3 linked regions of the Homo sapiens genome follow. The protein of the gene in region 3 purifies or fractionates together with the protein of the main gene of each other region. This does not show direct contact. Each region holds a gene or a part of one and is shown on either strand. Other genes may lie near its edges.

Region 1 (7,995 bases), on a different chromosome or scaffold from region 3:
AACACCCTTCATCCTCCTTCCACAGTGTCTCCTCAGTGCCCTCTCCTTGCCACTCTCTCAGCCCTGATCTAACCCTGCAGGACTAGGGTGTCACTAGGTGAGGCCTCTTGGGTGACCCGGATGTTTGATGAATGAATAAATGATTGGAGCCAATGAGTCACTTCTCTGGGAGTCATTCTTCACAATCCCCCGGGGAAGTAGGTGGGGTCTGTCCTATCATCTCCACATCCCATCATCTGTGTCTCTGCACATTCCTGCTCATCCTTCCATGCCCAGCTCAGAAATGCCTCCTCCAGTAAGTCCTCTGTGATCACTCATGCTCCTAAGAGACCTGCATTCATTCCCCTGATTCAGAGATGGAGGCTTCAAGAGGGGAGGCTGGGGCCGGGCGTGGTGGCTTACACCTGTAATCCTTTGGGAGGCTGGGACAGGCGGATAACTTGAGGTCAGGAGTTTGAGACCAGCCTGGCCAACATGGTGAACACTGTCTCTACTAAAAATACAAAAATTAGCCGGGCATGGTGGTGCACACCTGTAGTCCCAGCTACTGGGGAAGCTGAGGCAGGAGGATCACTTAAACTGAGGAGACAGTGGTTGCAGTCAGCCAAGATTGCACCACTGCACTCCAGCCTGGGCGACAGAGCAAAACCCTGTCTCAAAAAAAAAAAAAAAAAAAAAAAAAAAAAAAGGGCTGGGTGCGGTGGCTCACGCCTGTAATCCCAGCACTTTGGGAGGCCAAGGCAGGCGGATCACAAGGTCAGGAGTTCAAGACAAGCCTGACCAACATGGTGAAACCCTGTCTCTACTAAAAACACAAAAATTAGCTGGGCATGGTGGCACACAACTGTAATCCCAGCTACTCAGGAGGCTGAGGCTGGAGAATCACTTGAACCCTGGAGGTGGAGGTTGCAGTGAGCTGGGATTGCGCCACTGCATTCCAGCCTGGGCGACAGAGCGAGACTCTGTCTCAAGAAAAAATAAAAAAATAAATAAAATAAAGAAGGGTAGTTGTTTTCCTGGGCTGCACAGACAGCAGTGGTCAGGGCTAGGACTTGAATTTGGGTCTGCCTGGATGCAGGGAAGGTTACCACCCATGTCCCCCTCCTTGGGTGGAGTGAGGGGCGTCACTCACTAGTGGCAGACTTCTCTCCATGTCCTCAAACTCTTCCATGCAGACAATGGTCAGGAAGGCTAGCTCCATGTCAAGTTCATCCAACACGCAGGCCTGGGGTTTGGAGAGGGGGCAGGAGAGGGCATGAAGAGGGCCTAGGGTACCCTGACACCCTCTCGTAATAATCACCAGTACCCACCCAGGAGATAGGGAATAAAGATGTGATTAAATGGGAGCACACGAGGCAGAAGACAGAGCTGGCATCCTCGTATTTGCCTCCTGTACGTGGGACAGTTTTCCCCCACCCCAGTGTGGGGCCCTGGGGCCGCTCACCTCCACCTTGTTGAATTTGCACTCCTCTTCTCCATGCTGGCACTTGAACTCCCACCTGCCACTGACATTTTGTTCCTGCAAGGCAGCAGGGTGAGAGCCTGCTGGTAGGCTGGGTCCCCTGCTCCCCTGCCCACGTGCCTCAGTTTCCCCAGCGCCCACACACCTGTGCGTTTCCGTAGGGCACCAGCGTGACATTGAGGATCTCCATGACCAACAGCCATGTTGGGAAGAGCTCCCGGATCAGGAAGGCTCGGCAGCCACCGCACAGTGCTTCATAGTAGAGGGTCACATTGACAAGCGGTGCATTGGACTTCTTCAGGGGCCCCCGCAGGTATAGATTGCCTGTCTGTGGATTAGGAAGGCGTGGGAGGCAGGTGTAGCCCTGGGCAGTTCCCCACTTCTCTCAACCCCACTTGGTAGTCTTGTAGAAAGGGGGCTGTGATACGCAATTCATCTTGCACGCCTTCCAGAACTTGCCAGGTGGAATCTTGACTTTGAGACTTTTTTTTTTTTTTTTGAGATGGAGTCTCACTGTCGCTAGGCTGGTGTGCTGCGGCACGATCTCGGCTCACTGCAACACCCGACTCCCTGGTTCAAGCAATTGTCCTGCCTCAGCCTCCTGAGTAGCTGGGATTATAGGCACATGCCACCACACCCAGCTAATTTTTGTATTTTTAGTAGAGACAGGGTTTCTCCATGTAGGCCAGAATGGTCTCGAACTCCTGACCTCGTGATCTGCCTGCCTCAGACTTCCAAAGTGTTGGGATTACAGGCATGAGCCACCGCCTCCGGCCTTGGCCCATGCTCATTTCTTGTCACTTCACCTGGAGACCTTGCCTCTGAGCTGAGCAAGGGATCCACGTGAACCCTTTCCAAGTCCGACTGAATAGAGGCGGCACCTAATAGGTGCTGACTTCCGGCTTCAGCTGAGGGGTGGCGGGTGGCCCATGTCGCTGGAGCGGTGAGCAAGTCGCTCAGCCTCTAGGGCATCTGCCTAATAGGTCCCAAAGACACGCGAGCCCTGCCCTGGCTGGAATGAATGCATCAAGGGTAGCAGCAAGAATGCATGCCGGCGGCCCTTGGCCAGCTGCTGAACTTGTGCCCTGGGCCACAAAAGGAGACCCCAGCTCCTGCCCCAAAAGTACACAGTAGGCGCTCATTGAACCCTTGGGCGGGACTAGGCGGGTGGAGGCAGCTGCGCCTCTCAGATGCGGGATGCGAAAGCGAAACGGCACGGAGGGAGTGTGGCCGCAGCGCCGGGAACTGAACAGGGTTTTTCCAGGAACCCGGCAGGGACAGCGTCCCCTCGGGGCCCTGGTCTTCCCCTGTGAAGTCTGGGGAGAAAGAAGGAGCCGCGTGCCCCGACAGGGCGCCTGTTCCCTCCAGCCTGCCCGCCCTGTCGCCGTCCCTACCTTGTAGTTAACTGGTGGCCCATTCCCAAAGAAGTCTAACGCTTGCAGAGGGGACGCCTGCACCGCCGCCGTGGGGACGTCCAGCAGCAGCAGCAGCGGTGGCAGGAACAGCAGAAGTGGCGACAGGGTCATCGCAGCAGGGGCAAAGGTGTGGCGACTGCAGCGGCTGCCTGGGAAATAAGCGCCTTTAACCAGGCGGCGGTCCCGCCCCTAACCCGGGCCCGCCTCCCGATGCCCACGCCCCTCGGGTCCCGGGCCAGCGTCTCTCCCTCCTCCACTCCTTCCTCTGAGTGTCCCACCCCCACCCCTGCCAGGTGCTGGGTCCCCAGTCACGAGGCCATTGGGCCCCTTGGCAATCAGCCCTGCCCAGGCACGTGAGCCCTGGCGCAAGACTACCTTTAGGGGAGGTGAGGTGGGGCCTTTGAGACAGACACAGGCTGAGAGGAATGGTGGTGTCTCCACGCACCCCTAGACCTTCTAGGGGCGGCTAGGGGACTTGAGGCCCGAGACCCACTCTCAGAGTGGGCCTGTGACCTAACAGGGGTGACGTCGGATGGAGGCTGGGGATGGGATGGAGGCCGGGGTTTTGGGGGAGTAACTGAAATATTCAGGCCCCCGAGAGTGGGCAAGGCCTGTGTGGCCAGGTCTCCTCCCTCCAGTCTCGCCCGTGACCTCCCTCACACCCAACCCCCACATCCTGCCCCTCAACCCTTCCCCCCTCAAACTCCTGACCCCGACGCTCCAGACCCCTCACCGTGGTCCCGTGGGACTGACTCAGGCTTGACCACAGCCACGCCGGAAAGCAGAAGCTGGCGCAGGGAGTGGCGTGTCATTTCTCTAGGGTACCCACCCAGCCCCACTTCTGGCTTGGGGTGAAGAGAACTGGCCTTCCTTCTTTTCATCGTTCAAGGCTTGTGGGGGGTGGGGGGCAACCTGGCCTTCAAGGGACGCCCATGGGGGAGAGAGGCAGCCTGTGCTGTCTGGGATAGGGGTGGGGTGGCTTGGAGTCCACCTGGCTTTGGATTTGAGTGACAGAGCCTCAGCTTTCCCTTCTGTGTAATGGGGAGAAGGATAAGGTTTGGGGAACAAGAGTCACCATGGAGGGCTCAGAGGCAGGTGGGGGAGAGTTGTCCCAGGCTGGGGCTTCTGGATGGCATGGTCAGGCCTTGGTGCCTACACAGGACAGTGGCCCCAACAGTGAAGGCAGAGAGAATAGCCTGGAAAAAAGGCCCAGATGGAGGCTGGAGTGTTGGGGGAATAACTGAGACATTCCAACCCTGCCAGGCCTTACATTCAGGGCAAGACACATCGGATCCTAGGGAAGAAAATGTCCCACACCCAGCTGGAAGATATACCTGAGTCCCCAGCTGTGCCCCCCTCTAGTTGTGGGGAAGACCCTGGCCACACACACAGTAGCTGGTTTGGGAGCCGGAGCTTCTCTGAAGTCCCAGTGGCTGGATGGTCCCCGAGCCCATCCCTCAGACGACCAAACCGTTGGCAAAGGCTCCCCAAGACTCACCACCCCAACTTTGGTGCTTACCCTATGCCGGGTGGGATTGAAGAAATAACCATAAATATAATTGCTACAATTTTTCCAGTAGTTACCAGGCACCAGCCCTATTGGAAGAAATCATAAATGTAACCCTACAATGTATTGCTCTCTGGCTTGGTGCCAGGCATAGAGTGGGCCTACAACCCATTTTATCATTGAACCCTCAGAAGCATCCAGTTGGGGCTGGGGGTAGGTGCTACTGACTCCAGCTGGTAACAAATAAATGGCTGATCAGAGAGGGAAGGCTATTTTGCCAAGGACACACAGCCAGTGGTTGAGTGTTTTTAGAGACCACACGGGATATTCTCTTCCACCCCCAGCTCAGCATAGCTGGGATCATAAAGATGGCAACCTTTCTCCTGTGAGCACCTATGCAGTGAGAGGCACAATCTGGGCTGGAGTTATTTATGGGTTATCTCCAGACAGGACACATGGCAGGGACAGTGCCTGGCAAGGCTAGGGGGCTCTGAGGCTAAGGGAGGCAGGTCCTGTCCCAAGGTCCCAGCAGTAGACTGGGTCAGAGTGGAGGTTTCTTTCTGCACTTGCCCCAGGTTCAGCCTTGTTGGGCCTTGAGAGGTGGCTGTACAAAACAGACAAGGACAGTGAGGCCCCAGGGTTGGGGAGGGCTGAAGGGACAATGACGTCGCAGTGGGGGTGTGGATTCTGGGTGTGATGGGGAGGGTGGTAAACAGGAGTCCAAGTCAAAGACGCCATGAGGCCACGCGTGGTGGCTTACGCGACTCAGGGAGGCTGAGGTGGGAGGATCACTAGAGGCCAGGAGTTTGAGACCCACCTGGAAAAGGGCAAGACCCTTTTTTTTTTTTTTTTTCTTGAGACAGAGTCTCACTCTGTCACCCAGGCTGGAGAACAGTGGCACGATCTTGGCTTGGTGCAGCGTTGACCTCCCAGGTTCATCTGATCTTCCTATCTCAGCCTCCCAAGTAGCTGGGATTACAGGCATGCGCCACCATGTCTGGCTAATTTTTTTTTGTATTTTTAGTGGAGACCAGGTTTTACCATGTTGGCCAGGCTGGTCTCAAACTCCTGACCTCAAGTGATCTGCCTGCCTTGGCTTCCCCAAGTGCTGGAATTACAGGTGTGAGCCACTGCACTCGGCAAGATCTTGTTTCTAAAAAAATTTAAAAATAATTAGCTGGACATGGTGACACACACCCGTAATCCAGTGACTCTAAAGGCTGAGATGAGAGGACTGCTTGAGGCTGGGAACCAGGAGCTTGAGGCTGTGAGCCGCGAGCTGTGTTCGCACAACTGCACTCCAGCCTGGGTGACAGAGTGAGAGACCTTGACTCTTTAAAAAGAAACACAAAAAACCCCACAGGGCTTTTGCTCAGCGTCTCCTGGGACCCGGCGGGCTGTGCATGGGAGTGGGTGAGGAGAGGTCAGAGAAGAGCCTCCAATGCTGGCTGGAGGTGCCGACGACTTGAGAACATCAAAGACACGGGAGACTCCTCCCTGTGGCATGGGAGGGTTTTGACTTTTGACGCCACTTGGCAATGAATGAGGAAGCTGTGGATCAGGGAGGGGATACAACTTTCCCAAGGACACAGCTGATGGTTGCGACAGGATTCAAATTTGGGGGCGGTGGGCGGGGGAAGCAGCTTGGAAGCACTTGAGGGGCTGGATGGGGTCTGGGGTCCCCTGAGCAGTCGGGAGCTCAGGATTCGAATCTCTCTCCTGTATGACCTTGGGCACTGCCTCAACCTCTCCAGGCTTGAGCAGCTAAACTGGGGGAGGGAGGGGTTGTCGGGTCTCAGAGGGGCTTGGAGTTAAACCCACGGGTCCGACCTGCTGTGACCCCCGTAGACACCAGGGTCCCCGACACGCAGAGGTGGTACTGAAGCCCAGTCACTGACAACAGAATCACCCACGACGTTTGATGTTTTATATCATATCAATAACAACGTACCGTACAAAACCTGCCTCCCAGCTCGTGGGGCAGGCAGTGTGGTGGCCAAGGGCAGCGTAGAAAACCAGGGCTCTTGTCCCAAAAGAGGAGAGGAAAGAGGGTTTTGCAGTCAAGGAAAAACAGAATCAAAACCCAACATGATCGAAGAGAAGCCCTGAATCTGCATCAGAGGGAGGGGCCGTGGGCAGTGTCGCAACTTGGCCACTGCGGCGGCACCAGTACGGGGAGCTGTGATTCCTAGGAGGGGTTGGGGCCAGCTCACAAGTTTATTTATTTATTTTTTTGAGACGGAGGAGTCTCCCTCTGTTACCCAGGCTGGAGTGCAGTGGCACGATCTCTGCTCACTGCAACCTCCATCTCCTGGGTTCAAGAGATTCTCACGCCTCAGCCTCCCAAGTAGCTGGGATTACAGGCGGCCGCCACCACGCCCGGCTAATTTTTGTATTTTAGTAGATGCGGGGTTTTGCCATTTTGGCCAGGCTGGCCTCCAACTCCCGACCTCAAAAGATCCGCCCGTCTTGGCCTCCCAAAGTGCTGGGATTACAGGCATGAGCCACCGTGCCTGGCCTGCGAGTTTAATTATTTTTTCGGGGGTGGGTGAACTTCTCGCAGCGGCCCCCTTGTGGGGGTAACCCGGTGGCGGGTTTCACTTCGGGGTTTGGAGGGGAAGTTGGAGTCTGTGGGGCGGGTCCCGCCCGGCCCCGAATGTCACGGCCGAGGTTCTCGGAAGCAGCAGAGTGAAGTTCCTTCCTGCCCTGACCCCAGGTCTATGGCTTAAAAATCAGGGTGCCCAGGCTGGGGCCGCGCAGCCCAGGGGCCCTCTGTAAACATGGCAGGTGCAGCCAGAAGGGGCTTCCGGGACCCCGGGGGACCTGCGGTGGGCAGGGCAGAGGGTCAGGGTGACCAGAGCCATGGAGAGGGCAATGCCCGGAGGACACGTAGATATGGGGTGGGGGAGTTAGGACCCCCAACATGGAGAGAGACAGGGGCCAAGAAAGACAGAGAAAAGGAGACAGAGGGAGATCTGGAGAATGGGGGAGGGAAGGAAAGAGAAAGAGGGTGAGAGAACCCCAAACAAGAGCCAGAGCCGGAGAAATGAGGACCCCTGGATGTGGCTGGTCTGGTCCGTGGCTCCCGCCGCCGCAGCCTCCGGCGCAGACGGGCCCAGGGGCGGCTCTGCTTGGGGCGGGTCCTCGGTGCTCAGCGGGCGGCAGGCGGCGGGCCGGGGCCCGGGGCGCGCACTGGGTGCGCCAGGGTGACGGTGAGCGCGTCGTTGTGCTGCACCAGCGAGGCGTGCTGGTAGTGCAGCACCAGCTCCTTCAGCGACCCGTACAGGTTGTAGGGCTCCGCGAAGCCGAAGCCGGTGGCCGTGCGGTAGATGACGCAGTGCTTGGTGTCGCCGTCCACTCTGTGGGGGCAGACGAGAGGGGGAGTCGGAAGGCTGGCCTCCCCGCCAAGCTTTCCCCGTTCCAGGGCCGCGTGCTCCCCTGTCCCGGATGACCCCACCAGGGACTCCTTCCCAAGGCCTGGCACGCGGCAGGCATTCAATGAGAGCTCTGGGAGGGACGCGGGAATCCCCACCGCTGCGGTCCACTCACACCACGGAGCAGGCGTAGCAGCCCCGCTGGCTGCTCTCGCGGATGAGGAAGGTGCCATCCCG
Region 2 (7,017 bases), on a different chromosome or scaffold from region 3:
GACAACTTGGACAAAATGGATAAATTTATCAGAAACAAACCACAAGTCACCCATATGAAATAGATAATTGGAACAGTCCTATAAAAACTTTTAGGTTAACTAAATTCATAACTGTAAATCTCCTAATAAAGAAATCTCCAGGCCCAGACCGTTTCACTGGTGAGTTCTACCAAATACTTAAGAAAAGTTAACACCAATTATACACAATATCTTCTAAAAAACAGAAGAGGATGCAATGCTTCCTAATTCATTTTATGAAGTATTACTCTGATGCCAAACCAAAGATAGCACAAAAAGAAAATTAGACTCATATTCCTCATGAATATAGACACAATAACCCATAACAAAACATTAGAAGATAGAATTAAGAGATACACTATATGACAAAGTAGGGCTCATGCAAGACTGTCTCAATACTTGAAAATCAATCATATTAATCATATAAAATCACCATATTAACAGGCTAAGGAAGAAAAATCATATAATCCTATCAATCAACACAGACAAAACATCTGACAAAAAGTTAATATTGAAAGTTAATGATAAAAAAATTTCAGAAAAATAGGAATACAACAGAACTTTCATAACTTGACAAAGATCATCTACCAAAAATTTACAGTTAACATTATACTTAATGATGAAACAACAGATACTTTTCCCTTAAAATGGGAAACAAGGCAAGGATGTCCACTCTCACTACTCTTATTCAACACAGTGCGGAAGTTGCAGCCAGTGAAATATAGCAAGAAAAGGAGATAAAAGGCATACAGATAGAAAAGGGAGAAATAAAACTCTCCGTATCTGCAGATAAATAAAACCTCCATATTTGAAGATGATTGTCCACATTAAAAAAATGACAATCTATCCAAAAATACTCCTAGAACTGAGTCCAGCAATGTCACAGAATACAAGATAAACATAAAATTAACTGTATGTCTAGATTCTAGTAATGAACACCAAAATTATATATAATCACTTTATTCTAAAATTTACATGGAAAGACAAATGAGTTAGAATATCTAAAAACAATTGTGAAAATAAAGGATAAAGTAGGAGGAATGAGTCTGCCCAATTTCAGACTTAAACAGCTACAGCTTAAGACAGTGGGACTGACAGAGGAACATACATATAGATCACATACAGCTCAATCTAACACAGTGGGGAACTTAGAAATAGACTCACACAAATACGCTCAACTGATTTTTAAGAAAGGTGCAAAAGCAATTCAATGAGAAAAGATAGGTGCCAGAACACCCGAACATACTATCCACCCCACAAAAAGGAACCTCAAGTTAAATCTCACACTTGACATAAAAATTCAAAATGCATCACAGACTTAAATGTAATATGTAGGCCAGGTGCTGTGGCTCACGCCTGTAACTCTAGCACTTCAGGAAGCCAAGGCCGAAGGACTGCTTGAGGTCAGAAGTTCGAGACCACCCTAAGCAATACGGAGACACCCCCACCTCTACAAAAAATTTTAAAAATTAGCCAGGCATGGCAGCATGGATGTGTAGTCCCATCTACTTGGGAGGCTGAGGCATAAGGATCACTTGAGCCCAGGACTTTGAGGTTACAGTGAACTGTGACTGTGCCACTGTACTTCAGCCTGGGTGACAGAATGAGACCCTGTCTCTAAATAAAAAATAAATGTAATATGTAAAACAATATTACTTTTATTTATTTTTTAAATAGGAGAGAGTCTTTGAGATCTAGGACTAGGCAAAGAGTTAATAAGACCTGAAACTAAAAGCATGATCCATAAAAAGCGGTAAATTAGACTTAATCAAAATGAAATATTTTGGTTCTATGAAAGACCCTATTAAGAAAATGAAAACTACATACTGGGAGAAAATATGTGTAAACTACATATCTGACAAAGATTGCCAGATTTGTGATCATCAGGGATCATGGAAGGGTGGGGGTGGGGTTAGTATGGCCATAAGATAGCAACATAAGGGATCCTTGGAATCCATGAAAATGTTCTATCTCTCTCTCTCTCTTTTTTTTTTTTTTAAAGAGATAGGGTCTCACTTTGCTGCCCAAGCTAAGTGTAGTGGCACGATCATAGCTCACTGCAACCTTGAACTCCTGGGCTCAAACAATACTCTTGCCGCAGACGCCTGAGCTGACAGGGGCACAACATCATGCCAAGGTAGCTTTTAAATTTCTTGTAGAGACCAGAACTTACCATATTGTCCAGGCTGGTCTAGCCTCAAGGGATCCTGTGGCCTCAGACTCCCAAAGCACTGGGATTAAAGGTTCCCTATCTTAACTGTCAGTATCATGGTTGTGATGTTGTAGCATAGTTTTGACAAAATGTTTCCATCAATGGAAACTTTGTAAAAGGTACAAAGAATCTCATTTCTTAGGATTGCATGTCAATCTACAATTATCTCAAAACTAAAAGTTTAATGAAGACTTTTTTTTTTTTTTTGAGACAGGGTCTCTGTTGCCCAGGCTGTAGTTCAGTGGCACAAAAAAACAGCTCACTGCAACCTTGACCACCCAGGCTCAAGAGATCCTCCCACCTCACCTTCCCAAGTAGCTAAGACCACAGACACATGCCACCAGGCCTAGCTAATTTTTTTTTTTTTTTTGTAGAGATAGGGTCTCTCTATGTTGCCCAGGCTAATCTCAAGATCTTTAGCTCAAGTGATCCTCCCACCTCAGTCTCCCAAAAGTGATGAAAAAAAATTTTTTAATCAATAGTGAGGCTGGTTGAGGTGCCTCACGCCTGTAATCCCAGCACTTTGGGAGGCTGAGGCGGCTAGATTGCTTGAAGCCAGGAGTTCGAGACCAGCCTGGGCAACGTGGCGCAACCCCACCTCTACAAGAAATAAAGTAGCCAGGCGTGGTGGTGCATGTCTATAGTCCCAGCTACTGCAGAGGCTGAGGTAGGAAAATCACTTGAGCCCGGCAGACAGAGGCTGCAGTGAGCCGAGATCACGCCACTGTACTCAAGCCTGGGCAACAGAGTGAGACCTTGTCTCTAAATAAATAAACTGTGAAAAGCACAATCATGACCAATTACCACAGATTTCTTAAGTGTGAAATACCTAAGCCTCAACCACATTAACTAAATATTAAATTAAAATACTAATTTTAACTTTCTACTGTAAATATGTCTTAAAAGAGTCATATTTCCAGAGCTACTGGTATTAATAAAAGTCACATGATTACAACTGCAAGCTAAATATACAATGACGAATTATTACTAAAATTTTGAGGTCTAATTTAGGTATTTATGCTGCCCTGACAAAAAGCCTGAATTTTCTTAATCAAGAGAGTTGTTAAACCAATGAATAACGTGCACCTTCTACTTGCAAACACTATTCTGAAAAGTTTCGTATCTATATTCTTCATCTCTAACACTGAGGCTACATATGAGTCTAGAAGGGAAACAACAGAAGTTCACTCAGCTACTGGGATAAATCCAAGTGAGATGACTCCATATCAATCTAACTCACTGATAAAAAATACCTATTTAAGATAAACCACTTGTTTCTCATCTCTTCCATAAGTTTTCAACTTCCTCAAAAATTACTCTTAGAGCAAAAAGAAACGTTCAGACAGACCTTATTCAAAAAGTTCTCCCAGCTATAGTACACGCAATTTGGTCTCACATTACCAATTTTCTCGTTTAAAATATGTAAAATTTGCTCCCATATATATTTCTTTAAGTTTATATTCTTACAAAGGATTTGTTCATGGCACGTTTCACTTCATCAGAACCATCTGAATAGATCTGCTGAAATAATCTGTTTAAAGCTGCATCTCCCTCCAACTTTTCATTCTTTTCTTCTTCTTTGATCTCACCAACCAATTTATCCCAATTTCTTGTATAAGGAGATGATGATGGATATAGGTTCTTTACATCTATGAAGTAAAAAAAGGCAGAAGTAATTAATCAACATGTTTCAATTATGTCGAGAATATGTAAACTTTGTGACCATGTATATGGAACATCTTAGCAAACAGTTTAGGTTACTGAATTTCAGGTATGCAATAAGTGTCTTTCTGGTATATAGGTCAATAACAAAATTCACATTTCTAAAAACTGAGTCAGTTACCATAATGTAAAATCTGGGGATTTCTTTTGAGCAAAATAACTCAATAAAGTGTAAACTTTTGATATGCTATACAAAATTAGATTAAAAGCAGATTCTTCATGTTGATAACAGAAACTAGATGAAAAGTATACAGAACTTTTATGTTTTCAGAAAAGTTGCAGAGACAGTACGAACAATTCTAAAAATGAAATTTTTTAAAGGATGCCTAAGAAATCTTTTGTAACTAAGATTTTAATAAATGTTAAAAATGTGACTTTTTCTAAAGTACTTAGTATCTTTCAGAGTATAAATAGCCTGAAAATATAAATAATCATCCATGCCACTCCATACTCTCCCATCAAAAAAGTAAGATTATTTTAATAGGCAATAACAGTAAGTAATTTCTAAATGTTTAAAGTACTACACTTGATGATCTAAAGTTCAATGCCCACATCCCATACACCTAGCAAATAATAGTATTTGTAGGGCACACTGGAGTAAACAGAGCTGCTTGCAGCGAGAGAGGCTACTGGCCCAGGGGCTCGGGGTACTGCCAAGATTGCTCCAAAGACCAAAGGCATCAAGATCTTGGCACACAAATAATTAGAAAATAACTAGACAACCTAGTAGCTATAGGAGCAGCTCTGTTGACTATCCAATGAAAATATAATGACAGCCTCAAATGTGAGTCACATATATAATTTAAAACTTCCTAGTAACTACATTACTAAAAAGAATCAGGTGAAATGCAGTTTAATAATACATTTTATTTAACCTGATATATCAAATATAGTATCATATTGACTTGAAACCAACAGAGGCCGGGCATGGGGGCTCACACCTATAATCCCAGCACTTTGGGAGGCCAAGTAGGAGGATTGCTTGAGGCCAGAAGTGTGAGACCAGCCTGGGCAACATAGTGAGAGCCCATCTCTATGAAAAAAAAATAATAATAATTAGCTGGGCGTGGTGGCACATGCCTGCAGTACCAGCTACTCGGAAGGTTGGGGTAGAGGACTGCTTGAGTCCAGGAGGTTGAGGCTACACTGAGCCATGACAGTGCCACTGCATTCCAGCCTGGGTGACACAGCAAGACTCTCTCTTAAAAAAAAAAAAAAACCAACAAAAAAAATGAAGATATTTTATATTCTTTTTTTCATACTAACTCTTCAAACTGTAGCATATATTTCACATAGCACATCATCTCAATGCAGACTAGTCATATTTCAAGTGCTCAACAGGTAACATGTGGCTAGCAGCTACTGTGTTGGACAAAAGAGCTACAGTTTTCAAAAAACCCAATTCAAAATTTCCCCATCAGTATGTATTAGGACACATTAGTACTAATCTAAATGTTCCTCCCAATACTGCTCTCTACATCCCTTTTGTCAAAATAGCTGAGAAACTAACATCCACTGTTTTTCTACGCTTTCTCTTCACTTGTAAACCGACTTTCTCCCTGCCCATTCCTCCTCAAAACAAAACAACACACACAACACCAACACATAGTTTTTTTTCAGGGCCAAATATATTGTTTTGAAAATCCTATCCACCTTCCTTCTACTAGATATCCTTCTATCTTTGTACATTTTCACTAGTAGCCAGGTAAAACAAAAAATGCGTGCCATGGTAAGTTAAGAGCCTGGGAAATATGGATTTAATTAATCCTAATGCTGACTCCCAGGAAGGATGAGAACAGAGGTTTTAATCTCTATTTTGTAGATAAGCAAGCTGGGTCAGATAGGTTAAGTGACTTGCCCTTATCTACAGTCTCCAGCTTGCAATACACAGGAATCTGACAAGTATATTAATTTCTTACAAAAACAGGACAGGAAGAGTATCATCTTGAATATCTAAGGTGTTGAGTTTAGAAAAAACATGGTAACTGTAACACTAAAAAGCCTTGATCTTTAATCTCAGAAAAACTTTTAACACCTGGAGATGGCAGATGAACTACTGAGAGATGAGTAATCTAACCTCCCTGCTCATTCACTATAATATCAAATAACTACTAGATACTCATGTCGGCAAAGACTGTTTCCATTGTTAGAAAATGCAACAACAAGCAGTATGCAACAAGTAGACAACGGGTTAACAGAATAACTGGACCCAACTGAGAAGACCTAGATTTTAGTCCTAGACAATGAGAACTGAGGGATAATCTTGAGCTTAACTTTTCTGAGCCTGCAAAATGGGAGGAATACTAAGGGGCTGCCTGTTATGCAGGGCTGTTAGAATTAAGTAAGATACTACATTTAAAGTGATTATATATTTTTTAAAGCTTTCAGCTACATATAAACCTCAGCCTCAAAATCTATTGGAGTCAGTCCTAAAAGAAACACATACATCTTTCAAATAAAGTGTGAAGCAGATGCTTAAATACCTTAAATACCAACTAGATATACTTCAGTCCTTAAAAAGTATCTGTTGGTGTTAATACCCTGATTTTGAAAATTATACCACAGACTACTTAAGAGGTAATCATTGGACTAGTTAAGACACTATCAATGGGGGAAACTGGGTGAAAGCTATATGAGAATCTCTTATTTTTGAAATTTCTAAACATCCAAAATTATTTCTTAAGAAATAACTATACACACACACACAAACACACACACAAATGATCTGTTGAATAACTCAGTGTTTTCTAAAAGGTGCCACAAGGAAATGTGTTTTCTGTTACAGAAGAAAGCAGTCAAAATCAGAAAAAGCTGAGACACATGTTAGCTTGTTTCAGTCATTAAATCAGACCATTACTTCCAATAAAAAGAAATTTCCCTCCACTCATTAATGAAGCTATTGCTATAAAATATAATCTTAGGTTGTAGTTCTGAGTGTGCTGTGAATTTGTCCACTAGAAAAATTCTTACCTAGTTATTGCACATACTTAAAATTGACCTCAACACAAAGTTCTGTTTCTTACAGGGTTATATATACAATGAAGCCTGGTTTTCTACTCTTCTCC
Region 3 (7,965 bases):
CCCGCCAACCCCTCACAGCCCATCCTGTGTGGGTGCCCCAAGAGCCTTGAGGTCAGACCAGGCCCTCCACGCACACCCTCTGGGGTCCGCACACACCCTCTGGGGTCCACGCACACCCTCTGGGGTCCGCGCACACCCTCTGGGGTCAGCACTTCTTGTCGTGGGAAGTGTCAGGTGCAGGGTAGGAACATCTTGGCGAGGGGCATTCACATGCACCCACATAAAGTGCAGAGGCCCTTTGCACAGAATCCCGGCAGGGGGCCCTCGGCGGCTCTGACCCTCAGCCTGCACCGTGAGCGTCCTGGGCCCTGGCCAGGGCGAAGACTCCGACCACAGACCCTTCACCTGGTAGAGCGTCCCCGACCAGCCCATCTGCAGAACGACCCTGTGGGCTGGGGCCGGCCCCCTGCATTGGGCCCCTCACAACCAGTCTGTCTCCATCCCATGCCCTGAATCTGCCCCCAGGAACCCTCAGTGTCACACCCACCCTGTGGGCCAGGTAAGTGTCCCATTGGGAGATGCATGTGGGACCTCTTGCTGGAGGGGCCCTCGGAATCCCTGCAGCCCGCCCCTTGTTTGAGAGCTGAGGAGCCACCCTGGGGTTGGCAAGGAGTGGGACTCGTCCAGCACCCCCAGACAGAGGGGGCGGCCAGCTGGACAGATACCTCAGGAGCGGGTCCTGACCCCGGGCGCCCGGGTAGAGGGGTGAGGGTGCTGGGGGTGCAAAGGGCAGGGACTCACCAGCCACCTTGGGAAGGCTGCAGAGCTCATCATGGGTGGCTGCCTCGCCTGACCCAGAGCAGAGACAAGGGCCCACTGTGCGGGCAGCAGGCCAGGGAGCTGGCCACGTCTCAGGGCTACGTCAGGACCCTGGACACTCCCACGGTGGCACGGCTCCACTGAAGCCCAGAGCAGGGCCAGGGGTGCAGATGGGCACCCAGGAGCCACACAGACGCCCGGGACCAGCACAGGCTCCCCTCTGCAGGTCAAGGCACTCAACACTGGGGTGCTGAGGACACGGGGGTGCGCCCTCCAACAAGGGCTGTGCTGGGACAGGCCCAGCTGTGAGGCCGCAGTTGACCTCCCAGAGGGACACGGGTCTGCTGCTCCAGAGACGCGGCCCTGCCAGGAGGGCTCCGTGAGTGCACACTCTCCTCTGGGCTTCCCGGGTGCGGGGCCTCCCCTGGCACAGCACAGCCCCTCACAGCACAGGCCTCACTGGGCTCTAGCTCTGTATCTGTGCTCCTGGCAGGCCAGCACCCCATCGCAATGTCCTGTGCCTCTCAGGGCCCAGGGTGACCCCTCCCCAGCACAGCTGCCGTGCAGGACTCCTGCCAGTCCCATTCACGCTGGCCTGCCCCCAGCCTGTCCCCGCAGGACTCCTGCCAGTCCCATTCACGCTGGCCTGCCCCCAGCCTGTCCCCGCAGGACTCCTGCCAGTCCCTTTCACGCTGGCCTGCCCCCAGCCTGTCCCCGCAGGACTCCTGCCAGTCCCTTTCACGCTGGCCTGCCCCCAGCCTGCCATTTCAGAGGCAGCCTTGGTAACCAATGCTCAAATGACCACTGCCCAGGCCAGAATCTCAGAGGAGGCCACAGGTGCCCGGTATGTTCTGATGGGGCAGCCTCCGTGGGGGATCCCTGGGCCCTGAACACCCTCCTTTCTCACTGTCCCTCCCTCCCCTGCGAAGGGCATCCTCAGCTGCTTCTGAAACCTGGGGCGCTGTGGTGGGAAACAGGTAGGTCACGTGGTTTCCAGGCTGAGATGATAAACCTGCCGCGTCCCTCCAGGTCCTAGGGGCCTGAGGGGATTTACTGGGGGCAGCTGGGAGGGGGGCGGCGAGGAAGCAGGAGGGGTGGGCCCCAGCTCCTTCTGACTCATCTGAATGCCCCCCGTGGCCCCTCGGCCGCCAGAGCTCGTGAAGACGGTTAAGGAAAGCTTCCCCCAAGTGGCTTTCACCCCACGGGGACAGAGCCCCAGAGGTGCCTGTGGGCCCAGTGTCCTGTGCACTCACAGCCCCAGGAGGGGCGGACCCAGTCCAGGCAACTTGGCCATCGTACACATCCTCCTGCTCACAGCCGAGAATCCTGGGGCAGGGGCAGGTGGGTGGGAAGGGACAACCTCCCCACCCCTCAGAAGCCCCACCCCAGCCCAACCAGAACTGGGTGGCCCATCTCCCTTCTCGTGTCCCCCAAGTCTGGGACTGGTGGAGTCTGACCAGGGCCATCCCCTAAGTACCCAGGCTTACAGGGAAACGGGACCTCCAAGCCCCACGTCACCTTGCAAAGTCCCCTCCTGGGCCACCCTGAGACACAGGCCGGGTCTGGAGCAGGGCTGTCTGGCCAGGGTGTGCCCGCAGAGCTGGGGTGGGGGGCAGGCCTCACTCCCTCTGCTCCAGGCTTTTCAAGCCCACTGTTTTCAATCTAGAGATTTCACAGAAAAACCCGTGTTTTCAGCTTCTCTTGAAAAGTCAGATCTGCCCTCAGGTGCCACCCACTTCCCCTGGGCATCTCTGCCTGGACAAGCCACCGTCTACCCAGGGTATATGACAGCCACGGGTCCCACCAACCCCCAACTGTCACCCCATGGCCCACGGCTGCTCAGAGGTCCCTGGGCCCATCTGGGGCTCTGTCCCCGTGGGGTGAAAGCCACCCGGGGGAAGCTTTCCTTAACCGTCTTCGTGAGCTCTGGCAGCCGAGGGGCCACGCTGACCCCAGCATCACACGGAAGGCTGGGACGTGCCCCCTCCCCCAAGAGCAGTTTCGGCTACTCTGTGTCCCCCTTTTATGGGCTGCACGACGTGGCAGCATTTTAACCGCCCCTTCTCAATGCACAGCCCGGACAGGCTGTTCTCAACACTCTCTACTGCAAACTACACACAGTTTTACGTCGCCAGAAAGACCCCAAATTTCTATTCAAAAAGACCGTACCAGTTTCAGTTCCCGCCAACCTCAAAGGCAGAGACAAAAGGACGGTGTGCCCCTCCTGTAACTTCATTTCTTCGGTGACTGTGAAGCTGAGGGCAGAGTCCACGCCTGGGGACAGGGCTGCCACCGCAGCGGCCACTGCGTCCAACCCTCGCTCCTCCTCCCAGAGACGACCTGCGTTCCGCTCAGGGACAGGGCTGCCAACGCAGCGGCCACCGCACCCAACGCTCGCTCCTCCTCCCAGAGACAACCTGAGCTCTGCTCAGAAGCGGCACCTCCTCATGCTGGACTCACTCGGGCCCACATGTGCCAAGGGGGCCTGGTTTTGGGGCCGGCGGGTTCTGCCTGATGCTCAGAGGGTAACTGGATGCTGAAAACTGTGAGTCTTTCTTCAACTCAGGGGAATGTTTCCAGGGCACGCCAGGCCTCACTCACGCAGGCCTCCGCGACAACTGTTCAGCACTGACTGAGGGTGAAGTGAAATCCTGAAAGCTGAGAGCCAGCGCCCTCACACGAGGGCTGGGACGTAACAAAAGCCCATCAAGAGTTTTGCCCAGGGCTTTCTTGGGCCTTGAAGCATGACGAGACCAGGACCCGTTTAGGATTAAACAAGTTTTACTGGGGGTCTGAAAAAACTCCCCAGGCCTCCACAAACAAGTGGAGAAGGAACTCCCCAAACCTCCATGATTTAGCAGAAGACAAGATAAGGGTAAACACCTGGGCCCATTTAGATCAAGTAAATTTACTGAGTCTTCAGAGGAAGATCTTCAGGACCAGACCTCAGTTAGAGATGAGAAGAATTGAATCACGTACGTCTTTAGACGAATGCACACTGACACGGAGACACAGAGCTTAGAAGGTGTGTAAGCTCTGGAAAAACTGTAATCTGGAGTTGGTCTGGCGATCATTTCCAGGCCTTCTCCCTGTAACCAGTTACAGAAATAAAATCCCTCTTCTTCCCCAGTTCATCTGCATCTCGCTATCGGGCCTCGGGAATGAGCAACCCGACCCTGGGTTTGGTCCGGGAACGTTTTGTTCTCTGCGTGAACTGCTTTCTCATCTGTGGTCTTTTCTGTCTTCTGGGACTCCTGTTGTTGGCACGTGGGCTCCTCCCGGGCCACTTTCCCTTTACCTGGCAGGATCCTCTCCTGTGCCTTTCCTGGGCTGAGGGGGGAGGGAGGGAGGGAGGGAGGGTGGCCTGCCGAGGTCCCTGGGCTAAGAGGGGAGAGTGGCCTGCAGAGGTCCCTGGGCTGAGGGGGGAGGGAAGGTGGCCTGCAGAGGTCCCTGGGCTGAGGGGGGAGGGAGGGTGGCCTGCGGAGGTCCCTGGGCTGAGGGGGGAGGGAGGGAGGGTGGCCTGCAGAGGTCCCTGGGCTGAGGGGGGAGGGAGGGAAGGTGGCCTGCAGAGGTCCCTGGGCTGAGGGGGGAGGGAGGGTGGCCTGCGGAGGTCCCTGGGCTGAGGGGGGAGGGAGGGTGGCCTGCGGAGGTCCCTGGGCTGAGGGGGGAGGGAAGGTGGCCTGCAGAGGTCCCTGGGCTGAGGGGGGAGGGAAGGTGGCCTGCAGAGGTCCCTGGGCTGAGGGGGGAGGGAGGGTGGCCTGCGGAGGTCCCTGGGCTGAGGGGGGAGGGAGGGAGGGTGGCCTGCAGAGGTCCCTGGGCTGAGGGGGGAGGGAGGGAAGGTGGCCTGCAGAGGTCCCTGGGCTGAGGGGGGAGGGAAGGTGGCCTGCGGAGGTCCCTGGGCTGAGGGGGGAGGGAGGGTGGCCTGCGGAGGTCCCTGGGTTGAGGGGGAGGGAAGGTGGCCTGCGGAGGTCCCTGGGCTGAGGGGGGAGGGAGGGTGGCCTGCGGAGGTCCCTGGGCTGAGGGGGGAGGGAAGGTGCTCTTCCCGGGTCCCTGGCGTGAGGGGGGAGGGAAGCTGGCCTGCGGAGGTTCCTGGGCTGAGGGGGGAGGGAAGGTGGCCTGCGGAGGTCCCTGGGCTGAGGCGGGAGGGAAGGTGGCCTGCGGAGGTTCCTGGGCTGAGGGGGGAGGGAAGGTGGCCTGCGGAGGTTCCTGGGCTGAGGGGGGAGGGAGGGTGGCCTGCGGAGGTTCCTGGGCTGAGGGGGGAGGGAAGGTGGCCTGCGGAGGTCCCTGGGCTGAGGGGGGAGGGAAGGTGGCCTGCGGAGGTTCCTGGGCTGAGGGGGGAGGGAGGGTGGCCTGCGGAGGTTCCTGGGCTGAGGGGGGAGGGAGGGTGGCCTGCGGAGGTTCCTGGGCTGAGGGGGGAGGGTGGCCTGCGGAGGTTCCTGGGCTGAGGGGGGAGGGTGGCCTGCGGAGGTCCCTGGGCTGAGGGGGGAGGGAAGGTGGCCTGCGGAGGTTCCTGGGCTGAGGGGGGAGGGAAGGTGGCCTGCGGAGGTCCCTGGGCTGAGGGGGGAGGGAAGGTGGCCTGCGGAGGTCCCTGGGCTGAGGGGGGAGGGAAGGTGGCCTGCGGAGGTCCCTGGGCTGAGGGGGGAGGGAGGGTGGCCTGCGGAGGTTCCTGGGCTGAGGGGGGAGGGTGGCCTGCGGAGGTCCCTGGGCTGAGGGGGGAGGGAAGGTGGCCTGCGGAGGTTCCTGGGCTGAGGGGGGAGGGAGGGTGGCCTGCGGAGGTTCCTGGGCTGAGGGGGGAGGGTGGCCTGCGGAGGTCCCTGGGCTGAGGGGGGAGGGAAGGTGGCCTGCGGAGGTCCCTGGGCTGAGGGGGGAGGGAAGGTGGCCTGCGGAGGTTCCTGGGCTGAGGGGGGAGGGTGGCCTGCGGAGGTCCCTGGGCTGAGGGGGGAGGGAGGGTGGCCTGCAGAGGTCCCTGGGCTGAGGGGGGAGGGAGGGTGGCCTGCGGAGGTCCCTGGGCTGAGGGGGAGGGAGGGTGGCCTGCAGAGGTCCCTGGGCTGAGGGGGGAGGGAGGGTGGCCTGCGGAGGTCCCTGGGCTGAGGGGGGAGGGAAGGTGGCCTGCGGAGGTTCCCTGGGCTGAGGGGGGAGGGAAGGTGGCCTGCGGAGGTCCCTGGGCTGAGGGGGGAGGGAAGGTGGCCTGCGGAGGTTCCTGGGCTGAGGGGGGAGGGTGGCCTGCGGAGGTTCCTGGGCTGAGGGGGGAGGGTGGCCTGCGGAGGTCCCTGGGCTGAGGGGGGAGGGTGGCCTGCGGAGGTCCCTGGGCTGAGGGGGGAGGGAGGGTGGCCTGCGGAGGTCCCTGGGCTGAGGGGGGAGGGAAGGTGGCCTGCGGAGGTCCCTGGGCTGAGGGGGGAGGGAAGGTGGCCTGCGGAGGTTCCTGGGCTGAGGGGGGAGGGTGGCCTGCCTAGGTCCCTTGGGCTGAGGGGGGAGGGAGGAGGTCCCTGGGCTGAGGGGGGAGGGAAGGTGGTCTGCGGAGGTTCCTGGGCTGAGGGGGGAGGGAGGGTGGCCTGCGGAGGTTCCTGGGCTGAGGGGGGAGGGAGGGTGGCCTGCGGAGGTTCCTGGGCTGAGGGGGGAGGGAGGGTGGCCTGCGGAGGTTCCTGGGCTGAGGGGGGAGGGTGGCCTGCGGAGGTCCCTGGGCTGAGGGGGGAGGGAAGGTGGCCTGCGGAGGTTCCTGGGCTGAGGGGGGAGGGAGGGTGGCCTGCGGAGGTTCCTGGGCTGAGGGGGGAGGGTGGCCTGCGGAGGTCCCTGGGCTGAGGGGGGAGGGAGGGTGGCCTGCGGAGGTTCCTGGGCTGAGGGGGGAGGGAGGGTGGCCTGCGGAGGTTCCTGGGCTGAGGGGGGAGGGTGGCCTGCGGAGGTCCCTGGGCTGAGGGGGGAGGGAGGGTGGCCTGCGGAGGTCCCTGGGCTGAGGGGGGAGGGAGGGTGGCCTGCGGAGGTCCCTGGGCTGAGGGGGGAGGGAGGGTGGCCTGCGGAGGTCCCTGGGCTGAGGGGGGAGGGAAGGTGGCCTGCGGAGGTCCCTGGGCTGAGGGGGGAGGGAAGGTGGCCTGCGGAGGTTCCTGGGCTGAGGGGGGAGGGAAGGTGGCCTGCGGAGGTCCCTGGGCTGAGGGGGGAGGGAAGGTGGCCTGCGGAGGTCCCTGGGCTGAGGGGGGAGGGAGGGTGGCCTGCGGAGGTCCCTGGGTTGAGGGGGAGGGAAGGTGGCCTGCAGACGTCCCTGGCTGACTCTGACTCAGCAGAGCTCCTGCCATTCTTCACGGCCGACTCTCACTGAAAATTCACTCTTCCTGCAACTCCTCCAGGCTGAGCATGCTGCAGAGTAGCTGCGTTTCCTGGGTGCCCCAGGCATCGGCTGGTCCCGGCGAGTGCACCCCCTTTACCCGCTGAGCCCCTGGCAGCCAGGGATCACGTCCTGCCAGGCAGGGAGGCTCTGTCCCTCCCTGTGAATGACAAAGAGGGGTACCCACAGCTGCCCTCTGGCACCACACCCAACACGGTCTCCAAGGCAACCAAGGGTGTGTGTACCCCCAACCACTCCAGCCTCCTTTGGCAAGTGAGACTCCTCTCCTTCACGAGGCATCAGGGGCTGACCAGCAGGGGTCGTGGAGCTGAGCTCGACCTGGGCTCCGGCTAGAACCCTGGTCTTGTGAGCAGTTGTGCCATCTCTCTGTAGAAAACATCCTTCCATCAGAACCAAACCTCCTGCAGCGAAAGCTGTGGAGCTGTTCGGGAGCGGCTGAGCCCTGGCCCCTGCCCCGCTCCCGGGCCGGTCTTTGTGGCACTGCCTGTGCCTGCACCTGTCTCTGGGACCAGCACCTCGTCGCCAGGGCCGGGAAATTCAGGGGAACCACTCTGAGTTCCTCCGAGGATCCACAGCCCCAGTGCCCAGGACCCTGGGGAGTCCCGGGGCTCACAGGCACGCGCATCCTGCCGGGCAGGTGCTGCCCTGTGGTCCAGCATCCCCCACTCCCCACCCTCGTGTTCAGTTCTAAACAGAGACACAGCCTCGGAAGGGGGGCGGGTGGCTGCCGCCTGGGCTCAGGGCCTTCTCTGGGAGGGATCTGCGCGGATTGCGGGGGGTGCTCTTCACTGGGGTCTCCGCCCTCTTCATTTTAGAGCCGTGGCCGGCGGGCCTGGGTTTCCCAACGCCCCAGAAGCCCTGCAAGGATC

Evidence for each region. Proteins that work in one complex are often made in the same cells at the same time.
Region 1: the proteins of NEU4 (region 3) and IFI30 purify together in Homo sapiens (affinity purification with mass spectrometry; 2 studies listed by BioGRID and IntAct, with this or other methods). This does not show direct contact.
Region 2: the proteins of NEU4 (region 3) and SUGT1 purify together in Homo sapiens (affinity purification with mass spectrometry; 2 studies listed by BioGRID and IntAct, with this or other methods). This does not show direct contact.

What each region holds. Positions count from the first base shown.
Region 1 is NC_000019.10:18,168,835-18,176,829, reverse strand, and holds the start of IFI30 (gamma-interferon-inducible lysosomal thiol reductase preproprotein), read right to left. Parts: upstream 3,018-7,995; 5' UTR 2,989-3,017; coding exon 2,857-2,988; intron 1,791-2,856; coding exon 1,608-1,790; intron 1,520-1,607; coding exon 1,445-1,519; intron 1,226-1,444; coding exon 1,133-1,225; intron 1-1,132. Other genes in the region: PIK3R2 (phosphatidylinositol 3-kinase regulatory subunit beta), read right to left, coding at 7,536-7,743, 7,934-7,995. UniProt on the Homo sapiens protein: Lysosomal thiol reductase that can reduce protein disulfide bonds. May facilitate the complete unfolding of proteins destined for lysosomal degradation. Plays an important role in antigen processing.
Region 2 is NC_000013.11:52,676,836-52,683,852, reverse strand, and holds part of SUGT1 (protein SGT1 homolog), read right to left. Parts: intron 3,880-7,017; coding exon 3,698-3,879; intron 1-3,697. UniProt on the Homo sapiens protein: May play a role in ubiquitination and subsequent proteasomal degradation of target proteins.
Region 3 is NC_000002.12:241,804,238-241,812,202, reverse strand, and holds the start of NEU4 (sialidase-4), read right to left. Parts: upstream 3,011-7,965; 5' UTR 2,929-3,010; exon of another isoform or gene 2,835-2,928; intron 1,737-2,834; exon of another isoform or gene 1,507-1,736; intron 808-1,506; exon of another isoform or gene 775-807; coding exon of another isoform or gene 742-774; intron 1-741. UniProt on the Homo sapiens protein: Exo-alpha-sialidase that catalyzes the hydrolytic cleavage of the terminal sialic acid (N-acetylneuraminic acid, Neu5Ac) of a glycan moiety in the catabolism of glycolipids, glycoproteins and oligosacharides.